4 linked regions of the Homo sapiens genome follow. The protein of the gene in region 1 interacts with the protein of each later gene in a biochemical or structural test. Each region holds a gene or a part of one and is shown on either strand. Other genes may lie near its edges.

What was found.
Region 2: the proteins of PTPN12 (region 1) and BCAR1 form a complex in vitro, tested with the Homo sapiens proteins (3 studies listed by BioGRID and IntAct, with this or other methods).
Region 3: the proteins of PTPN12 (region 1) and EFS form a complex in vitro, tested with the Homo sapiens proteins (one study listed by BioGRID).
Region 4: the proteins of PTPN12 (region 1) and NEDD9 form a complex in vitro, tested with the Homo sapiens proteins (one study listed by BioGRID).

Annotation. Positions count from the first base shown.
Region 1 is NC_000007.14:77,631,283-77,638,305, forward strand, and holds part of PTPN12 (tyrosine-protein phosphatase non-receptor type 12), read left to right. Parts: intron 1-1,065; coding exon 1,066-1,143; intron 1,144-4,483; exon of another isoform or gene 4,484-4,499; coding exon 4,500-4,567; intron 4,568-5,735; coding exon 5,736-5,766; intron 5,767-7,023. UniProt on the Homo sapiens protein: Dephosphorylates a range of proteins, and thereby regulates cellular signaling cascades. Dephosphorylates cellular tyrosine kinases, such as ERBB2 and PTK2B/PYK2, and thereby regulates signaling via ERBB2 and PTK2B/PYK2.
Region 2 is NC_000016.10:75,234,615-75,241,637, forward strand, and holds part of BCAR1 (breast cancer anti-estrogen resistance protein 1), read right to left. Parts: intron 4,047-7,023; exon of another isoform or gene 3,480-4,046; coding exon of another isoform or gene 3,477-3,479; intron 2,731-3,476; coding exon 2,569-2,730; intron 2,385-2,568; coding exon 2,268-2,384; coding exon of another isoform or gene 2,214-2,267; intron 1,373-2,213; coding exon 275-1,372; intron 1-274. UniProt on the Homo sapiens protein: Docking protein which plays a central coordinating role for tyrosine kinase-based signaling related to cell adhesion. Implicated in induction of cell migration and cell branching. Involved in the BCAR3-mediated inhibition of TGFB signaling.
Region 3 is NC_000014.9:23,362,157-23,369,935, forward strand, and holds the start of EFS (embryonal Fyn-associated substrate), read right to left. Parts: upstream 3,017-7,779; 5' UTR 2,870-3,016; coding exon 2,852-2,869; intron 1-2,851. UniProt on the Homo sapiens protein: Docking protein which plays a central coordinating role for tyrosine-kinase-based signaling related to cell adhesion. May serve as an activator of SRC and a downstream effector. Interacts with the SH3 domain of FYN and with CRK, SRC, and YES.
Region 4 is NC_000006.12:11,222,646-11,229,668, forward strand, and holds part of NEDD9 (enhancer of filamentation 1), read right to left. Parts: intron 1-7,023. UniProt on the Homo sapiens protein: Scaffolding protein which plays a central coordinating role for tyrosine-kinase-based signaling related to cell adhesion. As a focal adhesion protein, plays a role in embryonic fibroblast migration.

The sequences.
Region 1 (7,023 bases):
GTATTTTCTTGCGTCTCCAGCTAAATAAATGTAGGTGGGGCAAAAGCAATCATACTCACCTCATGCGTGTTGAAAATTGACAAGACCTATGCATAGCCATCAGGTGTGGTAAAATAGCAGAGTATCATGGCAGAACTGTGTGTTCATTTAAGAACAATGGGCAAGGCTCAAGACAAAATAATACAGGACCGTCGCATTTCTTTTTCTTTATCCCACCCTCCCCAACCTGAGAGTTCACACACAGGATTGTATTCTTATATTTTCTTTCTATTCCTCCAGTGAAAACTCAAAGATCAAATACACTCATTTACCTTAAGCCATAATAAAGCTAACCAATGAGGCTTACTTAATGCACTCTCTTTCCCAAGAGCTAATTTTGTTTTTACTAGTGAAAAACCTGTATATAGCTTCAGTCAGCATTCTCAAAGTACAGCCATGTGCCACTGTACACAAAATCTTTAGCAATAAATAAATGAAGATTTTTTAAAAAACTTTAATAGCTATATCTTTATCTGTTTTGGAAAAATAACTAGTATTTCCAATGTTATTTCAGTTATTGCTGTTTAAGACATGACTGAGGTACACAGTTAAGTTTAAAATGAGTCAGATTTTAAAAGTGAATAGGACACATGTTACATAGTATGGCAAAAATCATGAAAGGTGTTAAGCAATTGAATCCTGTTTGGGAAACACTGGCTTAGGCGTTTCATAACGCAAATGACCAAAGCTTTCCTTTTTGGACACAAAACATCATCAGTAAGCTCAGTAGAGAAGTCACTTGCCAGCTGACTTCTCTACTGAAGATTCCCTTCAGGCTTGGAGAACTGAATGATGTCTGTAGAGTGACAGGAAAGTCATGGGAGAGAGTCATTTCTGTATACATTATCTTTGCTCAATAAGCATCATAATTCTTGATAATGAGTGGAAAAGGTTTCTTGCATTTTTTTGCATTTTTAAAAACTGATCTAGATATTTGTGACAGGAATTTTTAGAATGTCAAGAAAGCTCTCTGATTTTGTTTAGATGACATGTTAATTTGTCTAAATTTTTATGTGTTTAATTTAGATGTTGATGTTAGTGAAGATTCACCTCCTCCCCTACCTGAAAGAACTCCTGAATCGTTTGTGTTAGCAAGTGAACATAGTGAGTGTCTCTTTTGCTTTTACATTTACTTCATATTCTAATAATAAACTCCGAAAAACATACCTGATTTTAATCTATTAGCTATTGTGCTACATAATTAAATTCAAAAACAAGTAAATTGATGTTGACATGCTTTTAATTCTTTGTTTGAAAAATGCTTTTAAATTATATTTTTTACTTGCTAAGATCGATAGAAATTACTGCATTTATGTTAGATATCAGAATTCAATTCATTTAAATGTAATTATAGGCTGGGCATGGTGGTTCAAGCCTGTGATCCTAGCACTTTGGGAGGCCTAGGCAGGTGGATCACCTGAGGTCAGGAGTTGGAGACCAGCCTGGCCAACATGGTGAAACTCCATCTCTACTAAAAATATAAAAATTAGCTGGGCATGGTGGTGGACACCTATAATCTCAGCTACTTGAGAGGCTGAGGCAGGAAAATGACTTGAACCCGGGAGTTGGAGGTTGCAGTGAGCCGAGATTGCGCCATTGCATTCCAGCCTGGGCGAAGAGCAAGATTTCGTCTCAAAAAGTAAATAAATAAATAAATGCAATTACAAAGCCAGGTGCAGTGGCTCATACCTGTAATCCCAGCACCTTGGGAGGCTGAGATGCACTGATCACCTGAGGTCAGGAGTTCAAGACCAGCGTGACCAACATGGAGAAACCCCGTCTCTACTAAAAATACAAAATTAGCCAGGCGTGGTGGCGCATGCCTGTAATCCCACCTACTTGGGAGACTGAGGCAGGAGAATTGCTTGAACCTGGGAGGTGGATATTGCAGTGAGCCGAGATCACACTATTGCACTCCAACCTGGGCAACAAGAGCGAAACTCCATCTTAAAAAAAAAATGCAATTATAAGTGTATTTGCAATCTGGTGTATTTTCATTCATTAAAAATAGCACTTATTGACTCATGCCTGTAATCCTGCCACTTTGGGAGACCAAGGCGGGCAGATCACGAGGTCAGGACATCAAGACCATCCTGGCTAACACACTGAAACCCTGTCTCTACTAGAAATACAAAAAATTAGCTGTGTGTGGTGGCATGCACCAGTAGTCCCAGCTGCTCGGGAGGCTGAGGCAGGAGAATCGCTTGAACCCCGGAGGCAGAGGTTGGAGTGAGCCGAGACCATGCCACTGCACTCCAGCCTGGGCAACAGAGCAAGACTCCATCTCAAAAAAAAAAAAAGTAGCACTTATTTATGAAAACATTAATTGCTTTCCTTAGATTTAGGTCAGTAAACATTTCTGTTGGGTGGGCGTCACTGGATTGGTGTTAACTGAAAGACATTTAACACCACTGGAGTAGACTGAGCACATTGGCTCATACCTGTAATCGCAGCACTTTGGGAGTCCAAGGCGCGAGGATTGCTTGAGCCTAAGAGTTTGAGACCAGCCTGGGCAACACAGTGATACCTCCTCTCTTCTAAAAATAAAATAACTGTCCAGTTGTGGTGGTGGGCGCCTGTAATCCCAGCTGCTTGGGAGGCTGAGGCAGGAGAATTGCTTGAACCCAGGATGCAGAGGTTGCAGCGAGCTGAGACCACGCCATTGCATTCCAGCCTGGGCAACAAGAGCAAAAAACTTTGTCTCAAAAAATAATAATAACAACAAAAAATTAGCCAGGTGTGGTGGCATGTGCCTGTAGTCCTTGCTACTCAGGAGGCTGAAGAAGAAGGATTGCTTGATCCCTGTAGTTGGAGGCTGCAGTGAGCCATGATCGCACCACTGTACTCCAGTTTGGTAACAGTGAGACCCCGTCTGTGGAAGAAAAAAAAAAGACCACTGGAGTATCAGAACTGGGAGAAAGTGATGATACTTTAAAACATTGATAATATACTTCTCCCTATTAATCCTCTAAAAAAGAGTGCAGAAACAGCTTGATTGTATTTACAGTGTCTCATGCTCAGTGGAGGTGCTCACTTGTCTAAGTACATTTTACCAATATATTAATTTTGACTGATTTTTGTTTTGTTTCATTTGGTTTTCTTTTTATTTATTTATTTTTTATTTATTCATTTTTTTGAGATGGAGTCTCATTCTGTCGCCCCGGCTGGAGTGCAGTGGCACGATCTCGGCTCACTGCAAGCTCCACCTCTTGGGTTCATGCCATTCTCCTGCCTCAGCCTCCCATGTAGCTGGGACTACAGGTGCCTGCCACCACACCCGGCTTATTTTTTTGTATTTTTTTTAGTAGAGACAGGGTTTCACCGTGTTAGCCAGGATGGTCCATCTCCTGACCTCATGATCCGCCCACCTCAGCCTCTCAAAGTGCTGGGATTACAGGCATGAGCCACCACGCCCGGCTAATTTTTTTGTATTTTTTTAGTAGAGACAGGGTTTCACCATGTTAGCCAGGATGGTCTCCATCTCCTGACCTCGTGATCGCCCGCCTCAGCCTCCCAAAGTGCTGGGATTACAGGCGGGAGCCACCACGCCCGGCCTTGTTTTGTTTTATTTCGAGTTGGAGTTCCACTCTGTCACTCAGGCTGGAGTGCAGTGGCACGATCTGGGCTCAAGCTGTTCTCCTGCCTCAGCCTCCTGAGTAGCTGCGATTAGAGGCATACACCGTCACTCCCAACTAATTTTTTTATTAGAGATAGGGTCTCACCATGTTGGCCAGGCTGGTCTTGAACTCCTGACCTCAAGTGATCTGCCTGCCTCAGCCTCCCAAAGTGAATTTTGACTGATTTTAAGATAAATGTTAAAGAGCCAAGCACAATGGCTTATGCCTGTGATCCCAGCACTTTGGGAGACCAAGGCAGGTGGATCTCTGTTCCATTTGCCCTAGGAGTTTGAGACCAGCCTGGGCAACATGGCAAAACCCTGTCTGTATAAAATCAAAAATTAGCCAGGCGAGGTGGCATGCACCTATAGTCCCAGCTACTCAAGAAGCTGAGATGGGAAGATTGCCTGAGCCTGGGAGGTTGAGGCTCCAGTGAGCCGAGATCGCGCCTGGTCAACAGAGTGAGACCCTGTCTCAACAACAATTAAAAAGAATGTTGAAAGCAATGAAACGGTATACTTCAGTTGTCTAAGTCTGTCACGTTGTCTGTAGATTAAGCAGTATACTTCACTTGTCTGTCACATTATCTATAGACTGTAATACACTGATGACTGAATTTATTTACTTAGGTTTTGAAGGAAGGAAACAGAATGTTCTCGAATTAATAGAAACTACAATTTTTTTTTTTTAGAAACTTCAGAAATATGCTTACCCAGAAACTACAAAATTTTTGTGGAAGCGATAGTTTCTAAAATCTTTAGGATCTGTTTTTTGTATTACTTTAATGCAAAGAAATTTCAGAAATTCAAGGTGTTAATAACAATAAGATTTCATTTTTCTCAGATACACCTGTAAGATCGGAATGGAGTGAACTTCAAAGTCAGGAACGATCTGAACAAAAAAAGTCTGAAGTAAGTCCTTTTGGAATTGGAACAGTTATAGCTTAACATTTCTACTCTTTTGTTAACTAATCTTGCAGTTGTTGAAATAGCTGTCATCTTAAGATCGTTAAATATAGTTTGTAATTTTTGATCGGCATTTCTTATACTAAGATTTCAGATGAAAAGCCCATATAAAAGGTAGGTTCTGAAATTTTTTAAAAGGGTAACCTGATCTACATACAACTATCACTTTAAAGTATTGTTTTCTCAAGCTGTTTTTGAAATATGTAAATTATGCTTCAAATAATTTTGAAGGTATGAATGAAATAGGAGTTACTATTTTCAGGGTCCTAATTCTTTCTTACATTTCTAGATGCTTCCCATTATAACACTAGGCACATAGTCGCTTCTTTTGTTTTTTTCTGGCTACCTGGCATTTCTTTGACATTCGAGAAATGTTTTGGCAATTAAATATTTTGAGGGCGTGGCATGGTGGCTCATGTCTGTAATCACAGCACTTTGGGAGGCCAAGCAGAAGGATCACTTGAGCCCAGGAGTTCAAGACCATCCTGGGCAACATGGGGAGACCTTATCTCTACAAAAATTTTTAAAATTAGCCAGGCGTGGTGGCGCATGTCTATGGTCCCAGCTTTTTGGGAGGCTGAGATGGGAGGATTGCTTGGGCCCCAGAGGTCAAGGCTGCAGTGAGCCATGATCACACCACTGCACTCCAGCCTGAGTGACAGAGTGAGACCCTGTCTCAGCAACAACACATTTGTCCATAGGAGATAACATTTTTTATTAACATTAATACTTTTTGTATTTTCTCCCATACTTTAATATCTCTGAAATTTAGCTACATCTTATATTTGATTTTAAGACATGATGTAGTTTAATTGACATATAAAATACAATAATGATATAATTAGTAATAGTGGCTGGCAAAACACAGCTGTATGTTCCTTCATGCAGTAGCCCATGCTTTTCAGTGCTCATCCAGAAACATTTACTCCAAGGAGAAATAGCATAACATTTTAAAATTTTAAGCCTAATTAAAAAACAATTGTTTGCTTTTCCTCTGATGCTGAAAATGATAGGCCTTGATTTCTTGGGATATATACCCATAACAGACCCAGCTTTCTATTATTTGTATATAAAATGAATGTATTGTAATAGGTATTAAATGTCTTCCTCGTAGGGCTTGATAACCTCTGAAAATGAGAAATGTGGTAAGTTGTTAGATTTTTTTTTTCCTTTTTACTGTAGATTTTATTGATTAATTTCTACAAAATAACATGCTTCATAGTTCATGCTATATAGTTATTTCTGTATGTGAAAATGTCTAGGACAACTCTTGTAGAAGCTTAATATTGTACTATAATTCTTCCAAATTAATTATTACCACCAGATAGTAGTATTGATCTGGAAAATCATGGGAGCATTTACTATCAATAATTACAGGCTAATGGGAAAGAGATTTTTTAAAAATATTTTTCTGTTTTTTATTTTCTGTTTTTAAAAACACCTAGAAGTTAGATCCCGACTTAAATAAATGATGGAATTGCTTCTGTAGAAACCTATTGTTTTAGAAATCTTCCTTTTAGTACTTTTTCATTTATTTGTGAAGACCAATAAAATTGTGAAAGAATGAATGAATTTTAGTAGTTAACATCTTTTGTTACTAATCTTAAACACTGGTAATTAAAGAGTAAACTACAATCTAAACAACATAAAACTTTAAAAGTGGAGTTATTAGGCCTGGCGTGGTGGCTCACACCTATAATCCCAGCACTTTGGGAGACCCAGGCAGGCAATCACCTGAGGTCAGGAGTTCGAAACCAGCCTTGAGCAACATGGTGAAACCCCGTCTCTACTAAAAATAAAAAAAATAGCTAGGCGTCATGCCATCTGCCTGTAATCCCAGCTACTAGGGAGACTGAGGCAGGAGAATCCCTTGAACCCCGGAGGCAGAGGTTGCAGTGCGCCGAGATTGCGCCATTGCACTCCAACCCGGGCAACAAGAGGGAAACTCCGTCTCAAAAAAAAAAAAAAAAAAACAAGTAGAGTTATTATTTCAAGGTGCAAATAGTGCATTAATTAACCCTGACCTTGTTGATTTCTTAAAATTTTTTTTTTTTTTTTTTTTTTTTTTTTTGAGACAGAGGTCTTGCTCTGTCGCCCAGGCTGGAGTGCAGTGGCGCGATCTCGGCTCACTGCAAGCTCCACCTCCTGGGTTCACAACATTCTCCTGCCTCAGCCTCCTGAGTAGCTGGGACTACAGGCGCCCGCCACCACGCCTGGCTAATTTTTTTGTATTTTTAGTAGAGACGGGGTTTCACCATGTTAGCCAGGATGATCTCGATATCCTGACCTCATGATCGGCTCGCCTCGGCCTCCCAAAGTGCTGGGATTACAGGCATGAGCCACCGCGCCTGGCCTGACCTTGTTGATTTCTATACAAAGACATTTCAGTTGCAACTATTCCC
Region 2 (7,023 bases), on another chromosome or scaffold:
TGTGTGTGCACATTTCTGCAGATCTGTCTCCCCACACAGAACAGCAGAGTCACCGCTGCTGGTCACCAGAGATACCAGCCCGAGGGACTCAACGAAGGGCTCGATGACATGGCCACCCTAGCACATGGGGCCAATGTGGGGTGAGGGAGGTCAAAGTGAGAGGAGGGTGCAGGGCCTTGCCAGGGACCAGGCCCCAGCTGAGAACAAATCTCCCCCTAAGCACAGGAGCCCAGCGTGGCAGAAGAGGAGCCGGGGCTGGGCAGGCGGCACCCACCTGTAGGTGGACGTAGTCATAGTCCTCCATCCAGCCCCCCTCGCTGTTCTCGTACTGCCCATCTGGCGAGTCCTGGGAGGTGAACTTAGGGGGTGAGGGCAGGGGTCGTGACTGGATGCTGCTGGTCTTGTCAGTGGGGTTGGGGTGCAGGGTGCCACCCCCCTCAGGCCCCGGGGCAGTGGCCTTGGTCCGTCTGAAGAGCAGTGAGGCATTGCCGTGCAGGAAGGAGGCCAGCTGCTTGGCGTCCTCGGGCACAGCCCGCGAGCAGGCCACCAGCCGGTCCAGGTCCTCAAGGGTGGCTCCAGAGCCTCCCCGGCCAGCGTCGAGGGCCTGACCATGTGCCACCAGCGTCTGGTGCACGTCCTCCATCTTCTGCAGCTGCCGGCTAAGCTTGGCATGCAGGGCACGGTCAGATGTGTGGGCAGCATTGCCCACCGCGCTGCGGGCAAACTCCAACAGCTCGTGGACGGCACTCTGGACAGCGGCCACAGCAGCCTGCAGGTCCTGCACCAGCGGCTCCTGTGGCTCAGAGGGGCTACGCCAGCTCCCAGTCGCACCGGCGCTGCCTGCCAGGTCCAGAAGGTGGGCAACGGTGGCGCTCACACCCTGCTGCAGCCGTGCCAGGGCCTCCACAGCAACTTCCAGCTCCAGGGGTTCCCGGCCCGGCCCTGCCACCTCCAAGGAGGACGCAGACTGGCTGCTGCGTGTGCTGCCGGTGCTGGAGGCCGACAGGCGCTTGCCCTCTGCCGGGGCTTCACGTTCAGCTGGGGGAGGCACCGCATACACACCACTGTCGACCACGCCACCATCAGCCACCTCAGGAGGAAGCACCCGTTCACGGGGCACATCGTACAGGGTGCCCGGGCCAGGCCGCCGCAAGCCAGGGGGCACGTCGTAGAGGTCAGGAGCCGGGGGCGGCACGTCATACACGTCCTCGGCCGGCGGGGAGTCTGGAGGGGGCGCAGCCAGTACCAGTGGGGTGCGGGCCGGGTCAAAGGGCTTGGCCTTGGCGAAGGCGGGGGGCACATCGTAGGTCTCCTCACGCAGCAGTGGGCCATCGGGCACATCCTTGCTCACCGATGGAGGAACGTCGTAGACCTGGGGGACAAGCGGTGGTCAAGACTGTCCATCTGTCCATCTGCCCACCCCAGGGACTGGGGGCAGCACCCAGCCACACACACACACACACGTACACACATACAGACACACACACAGAGGCACGCGCACACACACAGGCACACATACAAATGCAGAGGCACGCACACAGGCACACACACGCGCACACACACTCGCAGCCCTAGCACACACATCCTTCACAATTCCTATCCATGACAGCTCTGGGACGAGCCGGCTCTGGAGCCAGGTGACCACCCCTGTGCCTGAAGGTGGGAGAGCTTCCTCCCAAAGAATTGCATGTGTTAATTCACATAATTGTGTCACTGCAGACACTCACTGAAAGGTTAGCTGTGATACTGCCACTGCCACCACCATCATATCATGATTTCATCACCATCACCGCCGCTGCCACCTCATCACCACCATCACTGTTACCACCCAGCACCACCACCACGTGTGAACTTTCTACTCTGCAGCAGGTGTGCGACTGAGCTCTGTGTGTATTATCAGGGGACCAAATTCTGGTTTGCCCAGGACAGTGCTGGTTTGTCCCTGATGCCCCCACATAATTACTAGTCCCCCCTTCACTCTTGGAAGTATCCCAGGTGAGATGACACATCCCGTGGTCACCTTGCGGATACCCTCTCAGGAGCTCATGGAGAAGGCCTCGCAACAGGCGGTTCTGCCGACAAAGAACCTGAGGCTCAGAAGACAGCTTGATTTCCTCATCTGTCAACCATCCAGAACCAGGGTCTGGAGCCAGTCTCTTCCTGCCCGCCACCCCCAGCCCTGCAGACACTGGTCAGCACCCCTGTGCACACACCCAGACACCCCACAGCCTCAGCCTGGCCCTGGCATTGCCCTGGCATTTGCTCACTGCGTGGTGGTTGGACGGTGGCAGGCCCTTCTCCACACTGGGGGGCACGTCATACACCTCCAGCAACGGGTCTCGGCCATTGGGACCCTTGACAGCCATGGGGGGTGTGTCATACACCTGGGGCAGAAACAGTGCAGGGTTAACGGCGCCAGGGCCACTTGGGGGAATAGGAAAGGTGGGAACCCCGCAGCACCGTCCCCAGGCCTGGCCGGGGCTGAGAAGATGCAGCTCTCGGCCCAGGGCCAAGCAGAGGCACAGACTTGCCGCCCTGCCCTCCCACCGCTGCGCACCCCACACCTACCTCCTGGCCATACTGGCTGGGAAGCAGCCCCCGAACCGGGGGCACATCATAGATGTCCTGTGGCCCCGGGGCCAGCAGGTGTCGCGGGATGTCGTACTCGTCCTGCTCCGGCTGGGCGGCCTCGTATACATAGCCCTGCCCCACGCGGGTGGGCACCACCACCTGGGGGCAGAGAGCCGACTTCACTGCTGCCCTCAAACCAGCCCTTAGGGAGGCTCCACTCACACCTGGGAGCCACGTCCTTTTAGGAGGTGGGCAGGGCACACCAGGTGGAAGGGACGGGGCTCCCCAAGGATGCCAGTTCTCACCCCCTCTGCACCATCTGACCTTCCTCTAGCAGAACGCAGTGCCAGGTACGGCAAGAACTCTGGGTTTTATTCAGAGCTGCCTCGTCCTGGGCCAGGACACCAACGTCTCTACAGCCTGCTGACCCAGAAGGCTCCACAGAGGAGCATGGGTATGAGCTGATGACACCGGTGGGGTGAGGGGCTGAGGCCCTGGCTCTGGAGGGCACTACCCACAGGCAAGGAACCCCCCGTTACTGGGGCGCCTAGCCCCACAGGACAAGAGGCCACGTCGGAGGCCTGGGAGTCTGCTGCCCACACCACCTAGCTGTAGCCTCCTCAGAAGGGTTGGCCCAGCAGGGGACTGCATCCGGCCCAGGACCAGATAGAGCCTAGCACCCCCTGCCCCACAGCACAGCATGGGGAGACTCTGGAGGACAGGGCCAGAGGGGCAGGTTGGGTGTGTGCTGGGGGGCGCAGCAGCTGGGACCAAGGCCCCCTCCCTGCCGCGCCTGCCCCGGGGGAGCTGCCTGCAGCAGGTAAGATCCCCAGCGACCTGAAAGGATGAGGCCTAGTGGGGGAAGTGGGTCCAGGGCCAGCCCTCCCCTCCCCAGGTGCTCTTACCATGACCCAGAGCCCAGGGAAGCCAAGGCCCGCACAGTGGGTGAAGAGGCAGGCAGCACAATGGCCTGCCCAGGGCCACAGGACCCCTCACCAGCACCAGCCTGAAGCGGGTAGGGGCCATGCCAGGCAGCCTCCTTCCCTGAAGGTCTCCCTGCCTTGGGGAGGTCAAGGCCTCCCTGGTGGGATTCTCCAGCCCCCGGGCACACTGCGCCCACACGCCTCCACCACCAGGCTCCCTGTTCAGCTCTCTCCACTGAAAGACCTTTTGTTCCTTCATCAAAGGGGATGTCTGGGACAGGGTTGACTCAGGGCCTCCCCGCACATCCCCCAGGGCAGCAGCGCCAAAGCAGCCCCTCCCCCGGGCCCAGTGCCCCTGAACCCCTAGAGGCCCTCCCAATGCAGGCAGGCAGCCAGCCCTGCTTGCTGAGGGTGCTGTGAGGGGGGCGCTGAGCATGGGGGTGGCAGAGGCGCCAGCACCCCCCAGCAGCCGCAGGCCTGGCAGAGCCCCCCGCAGCGCAGCAGAACTGGGCCCACTAGGTCTCCAGCACGCCTGGTAGCAGAGTCCCGGCTGGGGGCCTCCGTGGGGTGTCCCCGCCCCCTTCCAGTGCGTCTGGGAGTGGATTTGGCGGCTGCCTCTCCAGACTCATCTCCCTCCACGCGCCCCAGACTTGAGTCTCCTCCAGAACTATTTTTAGATGCAGGGACCTGCCAACAGCGGGGCAGGCGGGGCGGAGGGACGTGGCAGGTTGGCTGGGCCTCGAGGCACGGCCTGAGGCTTCTCCAGGCCTCCCAGCCTCCCAAAGGCAGGTGGGGACCCAGCCTCAAGGCTCAGCCAGGACCCAGCACCAGCAGGAGGGATGAGCATCCTCCAAAAGCACCCTGCCGGTGGCCATCCCAACCTCACGCGGTGAGGCCCAGGGGTGCAGCTGGACCCAGGCCTGCCTCCCCAGGCAAATGGCCGCCTGCCACTCTTGGAGCTGAGTCGGGTGGCAGTAGGCAGCCACAGTGACCAAATGTTTCTGTTAGAAAAACAGAGCAACGCAGCCACCAGGGGGAAAAGCTCTTTAGGGGAATGACTCAGCCCCACTGCTAATCACAGGCCACCCTGCTGCACACCTGAGACCCCACTAGCAGGCCGTGGAGGTCCCCCGGGGGTTAGGGGAACACAGCCAGAGCCCAGGAGGAGAGAACAGAGGCACAGTCACTGACATAAGACCCACACGGTCTCTGACACACATGCCTCATACAATGCAGAGAAAACACAGCACAGGCCCACTGCCAGGTGCACGCACAGAACCCAGGCAGCCCCAGGGCCAGGGTGCCGCCCCTCTCCTCCCCTACTATCAGGCATCAAGCGGGGGGACAAGCGAACTCAGGAATACATCCCAGCCTCCCGGTAAGGGCCCCAGAGGCAGGTGTCAGGTCGGAGGAAGGGGACAAAGTGGGCCCCCGCCCTGGAGCTCAGTGGCTGGTCTCCCCCTTCTGCAAAATGGGTGTCGCCCCTGACCTGGGTTGGCTCCCGGCTCTGGCACCCCCAGGTCCCAATCCAGGAGCCTCGTTTCCTCCTTGGGAAATGGAGCACCACAGGAGCGCTGCGACCACGGCCACCAGGACACACCCCAGCATGAGGGGCTCACCCGACCTGGGTCATGGTGGCCTGAGGGGCCACCACCATAGCCCGCTCCCCTCCCTCCCCAGCTCCAGGCACCCCAGCCTGAGGTCCCAGCACAGGGGAGCCTGGGGCAAGATGAAGCTTCTAGGGCGAGGAGGGTGAAACACAGGCCCGACAGGACCACGTGCACGCCTGACCTCACGCCATGGCTGTCTCCTTAGACACTGACCAGGGGCACTACCTGAGCGACCTCCCACAGACGCCTTCCCCCGGGGGTCCCATCTGACCATGAAAGAGCCTCTGCCCTCAGATTCCTACAGCCCACACCCGGCCCAAAGAGTCTCGGTGCCAGTGTGGCCCTCACCTCTCCCTCAGCCATACGGGCCACCAGGCTCCCACCTTAGCAACCACTGGACCCTGCTCCAGGGCCCAGGGTTCTGACCCTCCTGGCCACCATCCTTGTCACTCACCCTCTTGGCTTCCTGAGAGCCAGTGTCCCTCCCGCCCACGTGAAGTCCTGGCAAGGGCTCCTTCTCAGCCCAGCCAACCACTACCCTGGAACTGGGAGACTCAGTTTCCCAGGCATTTGAGGGGCAGGCCTGAGGCTTGGAGGGGAGCACCTGGAGGTTCAGACACAGATGTCCCGCAGCCAGGTGTTACCGCCGTGCCACCGTAATGAAGGCATGAGCAATCGGAAACTGCCCAGGGCCCGCCCCAGCAGAGGGGGCAACCCAGCAAAGTCCAAGGCGGCTCAGGGACAAGCTTTAAGAATTCAACAAAATGCTTTTGATATCTAATGTTGGATTTACAACTTTGAAATGCAAAACTGCATGTATAAATCTGTGAAACACAGGGCAGATACTAGACAAAATATGCCAGAATTTCCCAGTGATTACCGCGATTGGAAAATTTCATCTCCAGACTTTCCCATACATTATGCATTTTCTACAGCAAACAAGCATTGCTTTTGTGATCATAAAATACAAGCAGACACAATCAAGACTGGGGGAGGTTTCCTGGGGGAGAGCAGCCAGGCCCAGGACACAGGGCTCTCCTTCCTGGGCCATCAGCCAGGTCAGGGCCCTTGGGGCACAGGTCTGGGCAGCTCTACCAGTGGGCATGGGCAGAGAAGGACCCAGCTGGCTGAGCCCCTGATGCAATTGAGAGCAGGCCCCCTGCCGGAGACGGAGACAGAACAGCTGCCAAAACACAGCCTCGAGGCCGGGCTCTGTCTGGGGGTCTCGCTGCTGCTCCCCAGCCCACAGGGCTTCCAGCCGCACCAGGACAAGCTTCACTGCAAAGGCGGGAGAGGAGGGGTGGGGATGTGCCTGACCTTGGGGCATGTGCAGTGTGGACTGTGTGTGCGTGTGCATACGCACATACATTTGTACGTTTGTGGGATACTGGTGGGTGCACACGCTTTGTATGTGTGGACGTACACGTGTCTGTGTGTGGGGTGAGTATGCACGTGTGTTTACACATATGGGGTTTGGGTGTGTGCGTGTTCATGCATATGATGTGCGCATGTGTGGGCGTATACGTGTGTCCATTTATGGGGTATGGGATGCAGATATGTGCATGTATTCACGCACATTCATGTAGCGCATGTGTGTGTTCGTGCATATGGTGTGTGCATGGGTGTTCGTATCTGTGGGGTACAGGCATCATGCACGTGTGTTCATCTGTGTGGGGTGTGGGTATACCTGGACTGTGGCCTGAGGCTCCCCTACAGGACACTGCTCCCTGCCGCCTCCCCAGGGGATAACAGGACCCTGCTCCTCTTGCTAAAGCCAGTTTGGGAGCACCCCCACCCAGGCACCCCACGCCAGCCAGGCTCGCCTCTGACCAGATGGCTGAAGGAGCAGGTAGAGCAGGAAGTGGGAGCCAGTGACCCAGGTTCCCCTGGTGGCCAGGCTTGGTGGCCCATGTCCATGG
Region 3 (7,779 bases), on another chromosome or scaffold:
TGGTAGAATCAAGCTAAAACCACTCAAAACATACAATTACATTCAGCTTCAGTTTTGATTGCTAAATGATGATGCTTGCTGGTAGGATCCCAGGCAGTGGTGACTTACATGTAGTGTTGGAGAGCAGCTAGTTAGGCATTACTAGCCAGGTAGCCAAACGGACTGACTAATTCAGCAAAAAAATCTCAAAGTTAAAGATCTCAGGCAGGCTGCCACCAGACCCTGGGGAGAAGGATGCCCTGCTAGAGTCAGCAGGAGTGCATATTCCTCTTAGCTGATGTTTCCCTCTGGTGGTGAGGTTATCCGGCCTCTCATGGCTGGGTGATTTTAACAACAAATTGACCCCTCTTCTTGCCTGATTCCCAACTCATCAAACCATTTTCTGATTATATTTTGGTTTCTAAAGGATATTGTCCCACACAAAGAAACGTGCTAACCAGATGACACAAATTCCCGGTTAGTGCTGCACTTTTCTTTTTAGTTGTAAATTATAAATCAGTCTTTTGGATCTAGCCAGGGGATTAAAAGCACAGTTCTAGAGGCAGACCTGGGCTTGAGTCTTGGCTGTGTCTCTTTCTTTTAAAATTTTATTTAAAATATTTCTTTAGAGATCAGCTCTTGATCTGTGGTCCAGACTGGAGTGCAGTGGCACAATCATAACTCACTGTAACCTCGAATGCCTGGGTTCAGCCTCCTAAATACCTGGGATTACCGTTGCGACCCACTGCTTGGAGGTCTGTCCCTTTCTTTTTCTTTCTTTCTTTTTTTTTTTTTTGAGACGGAGTTTTGCTCTGTCGCCCAGGCTGGAGTGCAGTGGTGCGATCTCGGCTCACTGCAAGCTCCGCCTCCCGGGTTCACGCCATTCTCCTGCCTCAGCCTCCCGAGTAGCTGGGACTACAGGCGCCCACCACCACGCCCGGCTAATTTTTTGTATTTTTAGTAGAGGCGGGGTTTCACTGTGTTAGCCAGGATGGTTTTGATCTCCTGACCTCATGATCCGCCCGCCTCTGCCTCCCAAAGTGCTGGGATTACAGGTGTGAGCCACTGCGCCCAGCCAGGTCTGTCCCTTTCTAGCCAGGTTCCTTTGGGCAGATTGTTTAACCTTTCTGAGTCTCAATTTCCTTCTCTGTAGAATTCCATATGCGCATATCCATTTTCAGATAATAACAATACTACCTTCACAGGGTAGTTGTGAGAGTTGCATGAGATAACGCATAAAGAAACTATGACAAAGCGCAGCACAGGGCCAGGTGCAGTAAATGCTCAATAAATAATAGCTGTTATTAGAATCCTGTGAGTTTGATTAGCATAAATGCCCCTGACCCCAAAAAGAAAAATCTACATTCTTGGGACTACAAAGCTGACCAGCTGGCTTCTGAACCAGTATCTCTATGCCAGAGTACTCCCAGAGGTACTCTATCTCCAGAGGGCCTCCTTCCCCACTCTGAGCTAGGGTTTCCTGGCCATCGTTACAGATTGAGGAACTAAAAGGAATTTGGGGCCAGGTGCGGTGGCTCATGCCTGTAATCTCAGCACTTTGGGAGGCTGAGGCGGATGGATTGTTTGAGCCCAGGAGTTTGAGACCAGCCTGGGCAACATGGCGAAACCCTGCCTCTACAAAAAATACAAAAAGCTGATGTGGTGGTGCGTGCTTGTAGTCCCAGCTACTCAAGAGGCTGAGGTAGGTGGATCACCTGAGCCCAGGAGGTCGAGGCTGCATTGAGCCGTGATTGTGCCACTGCACTCCAGCCTGGGTGACAGGGTGAGACCTTGTCTCAAAAAAAAAAAAAAAATGGAGTTTGGTCTGAGAAAGAACCAAACTTGAACCTGTCCTCAAAGGGTATGGGAGGACATTGGGTGGCTCTGTGCTTCTCTTTCCAGTCTCTCTCCGAGAGTCCCCACTGAGAAGGGAACAGAAAGCAGGTGACGGCCTCGCTTCCCTGGGAATCTTAGGCAGGACCTAGAAGAGGGTGGAAAGGGAACAAAGCTGCCTGGATTCAGACTGCATAGACTGTAGAACAGAAAGCAGAGGTGGGGCTGTAGAGCGCTCCTCCCGGTGTTAGGACTGAGTTCTGTCCAATGGAGCCAAGCCTCTGGGCCCTGCCATTGCAGGACAGAGTTGTTGATGGACTGATTGATGATGGGTGTGACCACTCCTGCTCTATCCCCCAGCAGCCCAGCTGACTGGTGAGGGAATGGCCAGCCTAATGTAGGTGGCAGAGAGCCTCTGTGCTCTCTGGGAGGCCTCCTCCCACTGTCCCATCATGCCAGCTGTCTCCTCCCTTTGTCCCGATCCCTGGAAAGTGGCCTGAGGCTCTGGCTGACATCACCTCCCCTCCTCCCTCTGTCTTCTCTTTCTTGATCTCCCTCCTTTGCTCTATCTCCCTTTTTTCCTTATCCCTCGTCTCGAGATGGGCCTCCTGGGGTCGTTCAGCCTCTCGTTTTCCGTTTTCCGTGAGCCACTAGGTCCTTTCAGCCCCCTCCAAACCTTTTACTTGCCTCCCAACCACAAGCCTCTGCCAACCACCAGTGGCCATCTGTTCCCGCCCAAAAGGAGCAGATAGGACTCGGGCTACGCTTGCCCCTTCCCCTCCATTCAGGCGCAGCCTCTAGGAAGAAAAAGGAGAATGGGGAGGGGGCGGGGAAGAGGGGCGAGCCCGGAGCCAGGAGGAGCAGGGGATGAGGAGTGAGAGGGAGAAGGGAAACAAAAGTGAGAGGAGGGGGACACAGCCTCCTGGAGAAGAAAGGGACCAAGGAGAGAGACAAAGAGAGGGCAGAAATAAAGTGACAGGAGCGCAGGGCAGGCCGTGGAGGTCTCTCCCCGGCAGCCTCCACTCCCTGGTGGACTCACCGACGTGGCAATGGCCATGGCTTTGGCCTCCCGCGCAGCCTGCCTCAGGCCAGGCTCGGTTTTGCTGACTTCAGCGGTGGCTGCCCCGCACCATGGTCCGCGGCCTCTAGCCCCCAGCTGTGGCGCCTGAGTCGTGGCCTCCGCCAAGGTTGGAGGAGGAGAAAGAAAACCCACAAAACTTCCCAAATGAGAGGCAGGCTAGCCAGGCAGGAGGAGGAGCGGGGCGGGCCGGGGCGTCGCTGCGGGACGGCATCCAAGGGCGCGCGCTGCGTGCTGTCCCCGCGGCCTCCCGGGCGCCACCGGCTCGGCCAGGCCCCGGGAGCTGCCCGCCCTAGGCCGCGGGGGCGCCCCGGGCTCGCAGGATCCGAAAATTCCCTTCCCGGGCCGGGGCGGGTGAGCAGGCGGGCGCTGGGCTGCGCTCGACGCCTCTCCAGGCCGCTCAGGAGAGCCTCGAGGGCTGGGAGAAGCCGCCGGGGCGGTTGGGCTGGACGAGCGAGTTTAGGGGCCAACCGTCTCCACCCGCCGGCCGCGCTGCAGAGCGGTGCTCCCAGGGCTGGGGTCTGCGGCGACCCCGCTGGGAGGAAGGGAGAGCGAGAACTGAGACGCTTGCCCCAAGTTGCCTGGAGCCAAAGGCCCCCGAGAGCGTGGCCGTGGGGCTGGGTCGCTGGAGTGGCCGCTTCGGCCCAGACACTCGCACCCCCGGCGGTGCGGCGGTTTTCACGCGCGCACTCACTCAGCGCGCCCGGGGGTCTGAGGTCGCCGCTACGGCGCCTCGCCCCGGGCAGCAGCAACCAGCACGCAGGCACCCCTGGAACAGGCGGGACTGCCTTCCCGACGCGCGGCCTGCGCCCAGGCGGCGGAGGGGCCCAGCCCCCTTCCAGTCCTCGGCTCCAGGGCGCAGGGCCACGAGCTCCCGCTCCCACCCTCGGCCCCTGGCACCCGGCGCCGGCTCCGCCGCCCTCTCTCACACGCACCCTTGGCAGGGCCCCGCGGGGCGCCCCAAAGCTTGGGGGCAGCTCCCAGGTGTCTCTGGGAAGGGAAAGAAAGGCCACAAAGCAAAAGAAGGAGCAAAGAGAAGGCGAGGGAGGAGCAGGGGCCCGGGTCCTGTGGACTCGCCTGGGCTGGGAGTGGGGACACTGAGAGGGCTGCGAAGGCTCCGGGGGTCGCGCGTGGCCCGCAGGCTCACCCCTGGCCCGCGGCTGCCCTTCCCTCCCCTTCCTGGGCTCCTGGCCCCTCTCAGTGCTGTTCCTTTCTCCTCCCCTCAGGCCCTCTCCTCTCCCGCGCAGGGCTCCGTCCTGGGGATTAAGAGAAAGGAGGGAGGGGAAAGGGGAGGGGAAGGGAAGGGGCGGAGGAGAAAGAGGGACGATCCTTCCAAAGGCGGGTGTTGAGTTTCAGCTCAGGACCCTCGGGTCCAACTGCCTGTGGTACCCCCCACACCCCCCACCCCCGTCCCGCCCTGGCCCTGCCCCAGTCCCCGGCGCCTTCCTCCTCCGGACTCCGCTGCATGCCTCGCTTGCGGTGGTCCGATCGGCTTTCTCCGGGAGCTTTCCTCTCCCCGCCACGCCCCCGTCTCCCCGGCCGTCCCCGCGCCTCTCGGCCTCCCTTTCATTAGCCCCACATCTGTCTTTCCCATGGGAGGGAGCGCGCGCCTTCCGCCCAGCGGGGCCCTTAGCAGAGCCTCTCCAATCCTCGGCGCCTCCCCTACACAGGGTTCGCTGGGCCGTTCTTGCGGGGCACAGGAGGGGAGTCTGGCGCTGGACATGGATTCTGGCCCTAGTGACAACATGAAGCAGGGCGTCTGGCCCCAGAACTGCAGGCGGGCAGGTTGTGCGGCCTCTTACACTCCTCTGCCAGTCTGGGCCTGTCGGCCTCCTCAGCCTGGCTCACTCTTGCTGCTATGAGGAGAGGATTGGGCAGGACCGCTGGCACAAAAGTTGCTAGAACTCTTCCAGAGGAGATGGGATCTAGCCCCACCAGGAGTTTCCACTGAAAGGATGGTGCTCCTAGCCCCCTACAGCTCCTCTGCCCTGGGATAACTCCTTAGTGTGTGCTGCTTCCCTGGACCTTCCCTCTGGGACACACACATCAGGGCCTCTCAGGCTTGAGTGAAGCCTGCCTTCTTCCATTTTTGAGGTTCCTGGTATTTAAAAAGCAAGATGACAAACAGGATTGAAAGCTGTGGTATATTTTGGATGTTTACATTGAACAAATTAACGCTTCAAACACATACAATAGAGAATGACTCTGTGCATAACCTTATTTGGAGACAAGATCAGAAATGTAATATAAGGCCCTTGGTGAACTTGAGGCCCTGGACAGATAACCTTGCCTCAATATTCCACAGGCCCACACATCTAGGCATTTCCTAGGAGAGTGTGGTCAGGACACCTGCCCCAGCTCCTTCCCCACTGTATTACCTGGGCACCTGTGAAGAAACCTCTGCTGGAAGGGTGTGGTGGAGCCTATGGGGTGGAATAGGGAGAGATTCTGGGATAAACATGGGGATGGGGATAAACTGTGTTGGCTCTAGGCTGGCTCTCCATGATGGAAGACTCCTGAATAGATTCCAACTCCACTGGGATGGTAGAGGAACTTTTAAATTTCCAGGGAGAGCTCCTGCTTCCCAGCTCCAGTTAGGTTAGAGGTGGCCACTAGGGAAGATTTTCCAACCTCTTCCAGACCCCAGCCCTGGGGGACCTGGCTGCCAGGCACACGGATATCCAGCTGCTGGCGAGTGACTTGGTGTGATCTCTGCCCAGGAGACTGCCAAGGCAAATTGGGGTCCAAGGTGGAGGTGGGCAGGAAACCCTGTCTTCAAAGATGAATGCTTTGACTGGCACGAGGGGAAATAGATGGAGGCCAGAAAAGGCTAAGGAGGAAGGAAACTGCTAGGACCAGGCAAGGGTTGGCTTGGGAGATGGGCAGGCAGTTTCCCTGCCCGGGGAAGGGTAGAAGAGGGACAGCAGAGGACAGACCAGTGGGAAATAAGGCTGCTTCTGGAATATCCAGGTGTGGAATGGAGCCAGTCAGAGTCACAAGTGAATCCTGCTTAACTAGCTGTGTGACCTTTGTCCAGTTATAGGGCATCCGAGTCTCAGGTCCTCCTCTGTGGCAGTGACTTTGGTGAGGAGTAAGCTTATGTAGATTGCCAGGCACAGTGCTCTTCTTCCATGGCTTTTCCTCTTTACCTTGGCTTCCCCTCTGACTTGTGCTTTCCAGAAAGCTGAATGTGTTCGTTGTTGAGGGCAGGTGAGGTTGGAGAAAACCCAGGCTTGGCAGGTAGCTGAGACCCTGGGTGGGTGGCAGCCTCAAGCAGTGGGTCTTCAAGGTTTGCCCTTGCCATATTCAGGGAGAAGAAGGGAAGGAACCCCTCCATTTGGCTTCCCGGGTCCCAGTCTTTTCTCCCATTCTTTCCCCTTCCCTGCAGGTCCAATGAGCTGGTTTTTTCCTCACCTGACCCCAAGACTTCCTGGACCTCTCCTTGTTTCTCCTGCTACCCAAAACTTCTTGGGTGCTCACCAATTCTTCAGTTCTCCTCTCTTTGGACCCATAGCACCTAGATTGCCTGGGTTCTAATCCTGGTTCTAACACTGGCTAGTTACCTTGGCCAAGTTCTGTGACTTCCTGGAGCCTCTGGTTCCTTGTCTGTAGAGTGGGAATGTTAATTGAACTTTTAGCATTTACTTGTTATGAGGATTAAGGGAATCCCAAGAACAGTATCAGGCCCATGAGGTGTAAATTTTGGACAAAGGCAACTACTATTATTGTTATTTGGTGATGGCCTTGTGGTGGCACTAGAATGTCAAGGACATGGTGCCTGCCCTCAAGAAACATATCATGTAGCTCATGCTTGAATCCAGTCAATATCTTCCGGCTGACTCTGGAATAAAATCCAAATGCTCCATGGTAGCCTGGAGGACCCTATGTGATCTCCTCCCTGCCCACCTCTTTCACCTCATCTTGTCTCCCTCTCCTCCTTATCTCTTGTTCAACATCTACACTGTCCTTTCTGTTTCTCAAATATGCCATGCTCTTTTCCACCTCTAGGACTCTGCATGTCCTGCCCCCTCTGCCTAAACTACTTCCCCCAGACCCTTTCTGTCATCAGGTGAAATCCTGCATCCTCAGAAAGGCCTTTCCTGGCTTTCCAACTTAAAGTTGCCCTGCCTTCCTCTCCCCCACCCCCAGTAACTCCCTATCTCATAATGCTGTTTCATTTTCTTCATAGCACTTATTATTATCAGAAATTATCTTGTTTCCTTGTTTATAATCTGTCTCCCCCTAAAACGTAAGCTTCATGAGGCAGGGACCTTGTCTGGCTTGTCCTCCCCTGCATTTCTAGCTGTTAGAATAGTGCTTGGAACACAGTAGGTGCACAGTAAATATTTGGTGAGTGGATAAGTGAACGAAGGCAGCCATGACTATAGGACAAAGCCGAGTAAGCTGAGGGGCCTCCTGGGGAAGGCTACAGCCCTGGACTAAAGACATGGGTTTGTTGGGTTCTTGGTTCTGCTAACTCTGATTCTCCATGTGTCTCCCAGGGTCTAGACTGGGTTCTCCTTGAAGGCTGCTCCTGAGCCTAGGCGTTTTTGTAGCTAAACCATTATCATCTACCAATCAGAAAGTGGTAGCACTGTTCTGGGGGCCTCCATCTGTGCCAGGTGTTCAACCTTTAGTTGCTGGATCATAGGGAAGTATGGTAAGGTGGTGTCCCAAGGCTGAAGGAAGCATCTACTTACCAGCAGGAGCAGAAGTATTTCAACATTTTGATGTTCGGTGCCTTAGCTTCATGTACAGTGAGTGCCGATGAGCTTCAGTAGACCCTGCTGAGTCCTGTGGATTCAGCACTATTTCAGGAGCTGAGGTCTGGAGCAGCTAAGCTGGTTGGCACCTTTGTGACCATCCAGGTCAATGTTCCCCCCAATCCC
Region 4 (7,023 bases), on another chromosome or scaffold:
TGAGGTACATATTGTAGAGAGAGAAGCCAGAGAAATACTTTAAAGTTGCCTTAGAGATGGTTTGATGGGTTTTACATTTGACTTGAATGAAACTCTGCGCTTCTTAGTATTTTGTGGTATTCACTGAAACAAACTGGGGCTAGGCCTGTAAGAGGAAGTTGCTTTTTGGTTAGGACCTGTTACATTAAGCTCAATATCAGTAATGATAAAATTATGGCAGTCAGTTCTATGGGGGTATTTTTGAGTAGGGCAGTTATTTTTAAGGAGAAGGAGTAGAAGAGATTAGACCACTGCTTCTCAACTAGGAGGATTTTTGTCCCCTCTGGGTACGGGCAATGTTTAGTGGCATTTTTTGGTTGTCACTGTGTGTGTGTGTGCATGTGCACATGCATGCACACGTGTGTTACTGGCATCTAGTGGGTAGAGTGGCCAGGGATGTTGCTAAACATCCTACAGTGTACAGGACAGCCCCCACCACAAAGAATGACCTGGCCCTAAGTGTCAATAGTGCCAAGGTTGAGAAACCCTGGATAGAGGAATGGACACCAGACTGAATTAGGAGGGTCTAGCTTCAGACTTCACATTTGAAGACTAATGACCATCAAATCTCTGCCTTTTGTGCCTCTGTTTCCCTGTCTGCAAAATAAATATTAATAGACATGTTCTTCTTTATAAAAATATGAGGAATCATGAGATTATTTACTCCAAATGCTCTGATTTCTTCAGGAAAAAGAGTCTCTATAAAATCAAAGCACAGTTATTATTACTGCGCCAAGATGAGCTCATGAAATTGTGTCTTAAGAACTGTACTCCTCCCCTTGGAAAAAAAAACTTCCTCTAGGAAAAAAAAACCAACAAAACAAAAAACCCAGAAATGATCTTATCATGATTACACCTGCCACACCAAAAAACAGACACACTTCAGAGAAATGAAATTCTTTCCCTTCAGCAATGAACTAAGCTGAGTCTGTAATTAAGATCTTAATAAGGGAGGCAGGAGGCTTGATTCAGGTGCTGCGGGCTATGAGGCGAGAGCGCCCATGCCAGGTTTAAAGCAAGAACAATTGGATGCAAATCCCCCGCACTGCTTAACACTCTCAGGTGTTCCAAACAAGTTCTTATTTCAAAATGGGCATGGCTTTATTTCTAAAGATGCCTATTTCTGCAAAGAAAAGGAAAGAGAGCACCTTGTTATTTACAAGTCAATGAAAAAAAAAGCACAACATCTTAGACAGTTTCCTGCAAAAGGCTGCTGTAAGGGAGATGGGATAATGCCTTCGACAGTGGATTAATCTCAGGAGCAGCCCTTGATGACAGTCTCTAGAGTGACCATGTGCTTCCGGACTCTCCCAGGCAGTCCCCAGGTTCAAATATCCTTCCCTTTGTCAGACCATATGTCCCATTTTTTTGGTTTGTAAAACATGGATACATACTCACAAAAAAGAAATATTTTTGAAACCAACAACAAAGGATGGGAATGTAAGTATATTTCTTGATTATGGATCTGCCATGGCTGAATTTCGGATTTGGGAGAAAAAGAGCTAGGCACTGATAAGAATCTTAAATTCAATCAACGTTATGTGTTCTCTAATTGACAAGGTGATGTCTGTAAGGAAATGAGATCGATTCCAGTGCCTCTGGGCCTCTGTGAGATAGCCTAGAAGTCCAGCTCCACAGTGACAGGGGTTATCAAGAGAAAGGAGGCTGTCGGGCTGCGTTCATTTCTGCTATTCCCTTCCTTGAACCCATTTAAAGGTGTGCTTGTCATGCTGGGCTCTGAGTGGAGAGGGTCAGGGAAGCGGAGATAGCACTGGACTTCTGCCCCAGGGGAGCATGCAAGGGAAAGAGGGCTCAACATTTTGCTAGGCCAATGCTGCTGTGGTAGTGCGACTGTACCACAGGTCCACGAACCCATTTCCTGCCAAACTCTCAGTCATGCCACAGTGACTAGTAACAAGAACGAAAGAACAAAAGGAAAAGAAAAAAAAAATCTCATCGACAGATGACTGATGTGTCCTGACACTGAAGACTCAGAAGTAGCTGGAGTGTCTAGAAGTCCACTTACTGCCATTTTCTGTGTGCTGGCTTTGCCTGTTATGGTTATTTTGGGAGGCGGAGGGTGTTGGGGGGCAGAAAAGCCCAGCTCATTCTTAAAGAGTCCTCTAGATGAGTCCTCAGTTAGCCTCATCTCCTGTGGGAGTGAGGCATTAAATTAAGGAAAACAAGTGGACTGTCATGAATCACTGAGATTAAGGCTAACTCATAGTTACCAAGAGATAGCACAGTGTTTCTGCCTGACCAATAAAACCTAGGAAAAACATGAATGACATATACTATCTAAATGCACAATGCCTTAAGAAGTAGACAGGAGATCTGGTTCAAATCTGAACTTTACACGTGTTTTGGTTACTGCAACTTTCTACTGGGTTTCACAGATAATTAATCCATCCACCGCCCCCCTGCCCCCCAACCACACATACACACAGTAAAAAAAGGAATTCAAATTAATTTCAAAAGGGCTATCAAATATTTTTGTTGCTTGAAATGGTTTCACTTTTACATATTTGTTGCTAAATCTTTGTTTCCTGTGGGCATAAACATAACATTTCATGTGAGGGACATTTTTAGTAACATCATATAACTATTACCTTGATATGTTAGACATATCAGGGGGAATTCTAATTCGCAAGACTGAGATTTGCAAAGAAACATGACACTTACAAATCACTGGATCCAGCCTTTGAATAAGGATCATGAACTACCTACTTAGACACCGTGTAAGCACCAGAAGCACTAGTAGTGGTTAGTGAGGGGATTAGGGAGAAAGAGACTAGCTGTTTTGTTTGTTTGTTTATTTGTTTGTTTGTTTTGTTTTTGAGACAGTCTCACTCTGTCGCCCAGGCTGGAGTGCAGTGGTGCAATCTCGGCTCACTGCAAGCTCCGCCTCCCGGGTTCAAGCCATTCTCCTGCCTTAGCCTCCCAAGTAGCTGGGATTACAGGTGACCACCACCATGCCCAGCTAATTTTTTGTATTTTTAGTAGAGACGGGGTTTCACCGTGTTAGCCATGATGGTCTGGATCTCCTGACCTCGTGATCCGCCTGCCTCGGCCTCCCAAAGTGCTGGGATTACAGGTGTGAGCCACCGCGCCCGGCCTTTTTTTTTTTTTTTTTTTAAAGAATAACTGGGATTTAATAGTCCATTGTGGGGCCCAGGAATATGTATTGGAAAACATTCCACTGGCAACTTTAATATCTCCATGACAGCTGCCTCCACTCCCTACGTCAACCATGAAAAACTGCTGTCAGCTCCACCACTATCCATATTTCTGGAGTGCCCGTTCTATCTTCCTCAAATTCACCTAGATCTCATTGTTTGGTCAAACTGTCTTCAAAGAGAGTCACCCTTTCCAATGAAGGGTACAAAAGGTTACCAACAAGGTGACTTATCTTAAAATGCAGATTGTTCAGGAAAATAATCCTTTGCAGGCTGTCATGTTCCCTAGCTGTGTGGAATCCTCATTAGCCAGCAGGAATTACTGCAGAGAGATGGCTGGAATGTTCAAAGTAAATAAGATGGAGGGGGGTGTTGTTGGCAAAGTATAAACAGGGTTTTTTTTTGTGTGTGTGTGTCCCCTTTTCATGCCCGTACTCTTTGCAACCATCTATCACCTAGGAAACCGTCAGTTACTCTCTGGCATTTTAAGTTAGAAATATAGTATTTCTTCCCAATGGCCCTGTTTCATTTGTCTTGGCGAGAAGTCCTGGTAATTCAGCCTATATGTTCTTGCAGAGTATTGCCTTGGTCCTAGTGGTTGGCATTTCAAACCAATTTGTTCAGATTTCTTTCTGACCCTAAAATGATCTAAACATAGACAACCAAGACCTCTTACTTTACATTTATGTCATTCTAATTGACTGCAATTGGATAAGAGAGTTCACCCTGAACTTCTCATGTACTCCCAACTTACATTCTTTGGATTTTATCTTTGGTTTTTTGAATTGACGACTTTCTCTTCCTCACTGATATTTCTGTTATGGGTAAACAATTCTAGTGAATGTCTCCTTTAAACACTTTTATCTATATAAAAATTCCATATCTATATATCTGTATATCTTTGTGGGTATGTGTATATAACATCATATAATAGCTGCCATTTATTAAATGCCTAATATCTGCTAGAAAGGACAATTGTCATATATTATATCCTATAACTATCTGACAAGACAGGTATTATTCTCATTTGATAAATGAGGAAAAGAAGGTTTAAAGTAGCTAGCATAAAACTATACTGTTAGAAAGTAACAAAAGTGGGATCTGAAACAAAGCCCATGTTTTTTGTTGTTGTTGTTGTTTTTTTACTATGCCATATAGTATTAAGATCCTCTTAAATGGCTATTTGTGTATACATTTTGTCTTCTATGAGCAAAGTCTTGTAATTTCAGGAATACTGAGTCCAATGAACAATAATGAAGGAATCAAGTCATTAGTATATTAGCAAGTGGGGTCATATGCTGTTAGGGCCCTATGCTTACAATACACATCCAGGCCCACAGAATACTCAACAATATTCAACCATCTCAACCTAGTAACTGGGATTTTGACATAATTCTGTCACCAAGTCTTGAGTACATACCATCCTTTCAACATCTATTGAGCATCTACCATACAAAGAGAGCTGGAGCCAGCTTGCATTGTCTGCTTACTATATGCCAAGAGCCATAGTAAGTACTTCATTCATATATTATCCCAGGTCTTCGAATAGTATGAGGCAGTTATTCTTATCCCTATTTTACAGACAATGCTGTAAAATGAGGCTTAGAGAGCTTAACTTGCCTAAGGTCCAGAGCTATAAGCCATAAGGAACAGAAATGCCTTTCTTCAAAGCCCATGCTCTATCATGTCTCTAACACAAGAGCATAAAACACCAAGTCTTGGCCCCCTCAAAACTTCACAGACCCTAGATCATGTTTTTTATTCAAGGACTTTTCGATCAATCTGCCTCTACATACAAATAGAGGGTGGGTCTCTCATATTCAGTGGGGTTTACTTAAAACTAAACAGGCCCAGTAGGCAACCTATCTGAGTTACAGGTATCCTTTAGATAACGATTTGATTGAAAGAGGTCAATAAGTAAGGTAGTGCTAACAGAGTAGGGCAGAGGTGAAAAGCATAACAGCCTATTTTAGGGATTATAGGATGGTCCAGGAGACACAGGTTTCAGAGTTTGATTGTTTAAACAGAGTGGATGGATGAGGAGACTTTACTAGCGGGACTGACAGGCCACTCAAGTCATGTAAACGCAAACAGAGAGGCAGATGAATGGGGGCAGTGAGGGACCAAGATTTCCCATAGCAGAGTCTAAGGAGAAGGAAAAATGAGGGCTACAGAATGTGCATTAAAAGTGTCACATCTGTGTGTGGGAGGCAAGGGGGCGGCAGTAGATAGGTGCGGGTGGGGGGCTGGGGAGTAGGGGGTTGGAAGTAAGATCTACGGAAGTCAGTATTAAAGAAGCGTAAGGAAAGCCTGAAAAGAAGAAGAAGAAGATAAAAGGAGAACCAATGAGGTCATAAAAGCACGAAAGTGGGAGAGAATTTGCAAAAAGGCCGGGTGCGGTGGCTCACACCTGTAATCCCAGCACTTTGGGAGGCTGAGGCAGGTGGATCACCTGAGGTCAAGAGTTCGAGACCAGCCTGACCAACACAGTGAAACCCATCTCTACTAAAAATACAAAACTTATCCAGGCATGGTGGTGGGCACCTGTAATCCCAGCTACTCAGGAGGCCGAGACAGGAGAATCACTTGAACCCAGGAGGCAGAGGTCGCAGTGAGCTGAGGTGGCACCACTGCACTCCAGCCTGGGCGACAGAGTGAGACTTGATCTCAAAAAAAGAAAAAAAGAAAAGTGGAGAGGAAGGTGTTTTTTTCAGAAGACTGGAGTGAAGGGAGAGACAGGGAACCACTGAATTCTGAGAACAGGGACTGACGTGTATCCCAGCAAGGAAAGGATGCTAAAGGAATCCTTGGCATGTTACGCACTGTACAACTTGCTAAATTTGGTATTATCAGGCACCTTCAGTACTCTAAAGGCTTTTATCTCTGTGTAGGTAAGCCATTTAGCTCTGCAAATGGGTTTACTAAATAAATAAATAAATGCATAAATACATAAATAACCAAGTTGATATTTTTCAAAGCATGTTTTAGTGATTTTAAATCCATAGATCTCATACAAGGTTTAAAAAGGAAAAGGACAGGAGTCCTACATTTGGATTGGTTGCAAAAATCATACAGAGAAAAATAAAGCATTTTAAACCAAAATATCAAAGCAAGGAAATAATTGGGAATTTAATAGCTTATGCATGACCATATTGACTAAATTAAAGATCCTCTGTCATTATTTTCCTCGGTCTTGCTTGAGGAAATACGAATACTTTCAAAGTCCTTTCCAAAGCGTTTCACGGCACACAGGTTCTCCTTTCCCTGACCTACCCCATTCAACCAGAACACAGGACTCTGACTTTCAGAATGCACCTTTCTTAATGGCATTGTAAGTTCCGTCTGTAATTTTTCTTCAGTCAAAACGTTAAAGAATGAATTTGTTGCATGGTAGACGAGATAAATAATTTAGAATTTTAATGTAGGCACGTAAGGGCTCAGAAATTTGGCAAAGCCACAAAAGCGTCTCTGCTCAGCCATTAGCAGCCAGGCCAAGGGGCCGCTGAGCCCCCGCCCGGGCTGGGCCTGAGGTGGGCGGGGCCTCGGGCCTGGCAGGCACAAACGGGGTGGGGTCTCGGGGGCTTCTGCTCAAACACAGCTGCGCAGAGACCCTTCCATCACCCTCCTGGGAAACAGCACAACCATACACCTCCAGACCCTCAGGAGGGAGCCTTCACTGGGTAAGCAAACCAAGGCCATCGAGGCAATCACCTAACCCCGCCAGCCCCCGCCCAATTAAGAACATGCTCTGTATATGAAGGGGATTTTGTAGAAAATTCTTAATAAATGAAGCCCCCGTAATTTACTA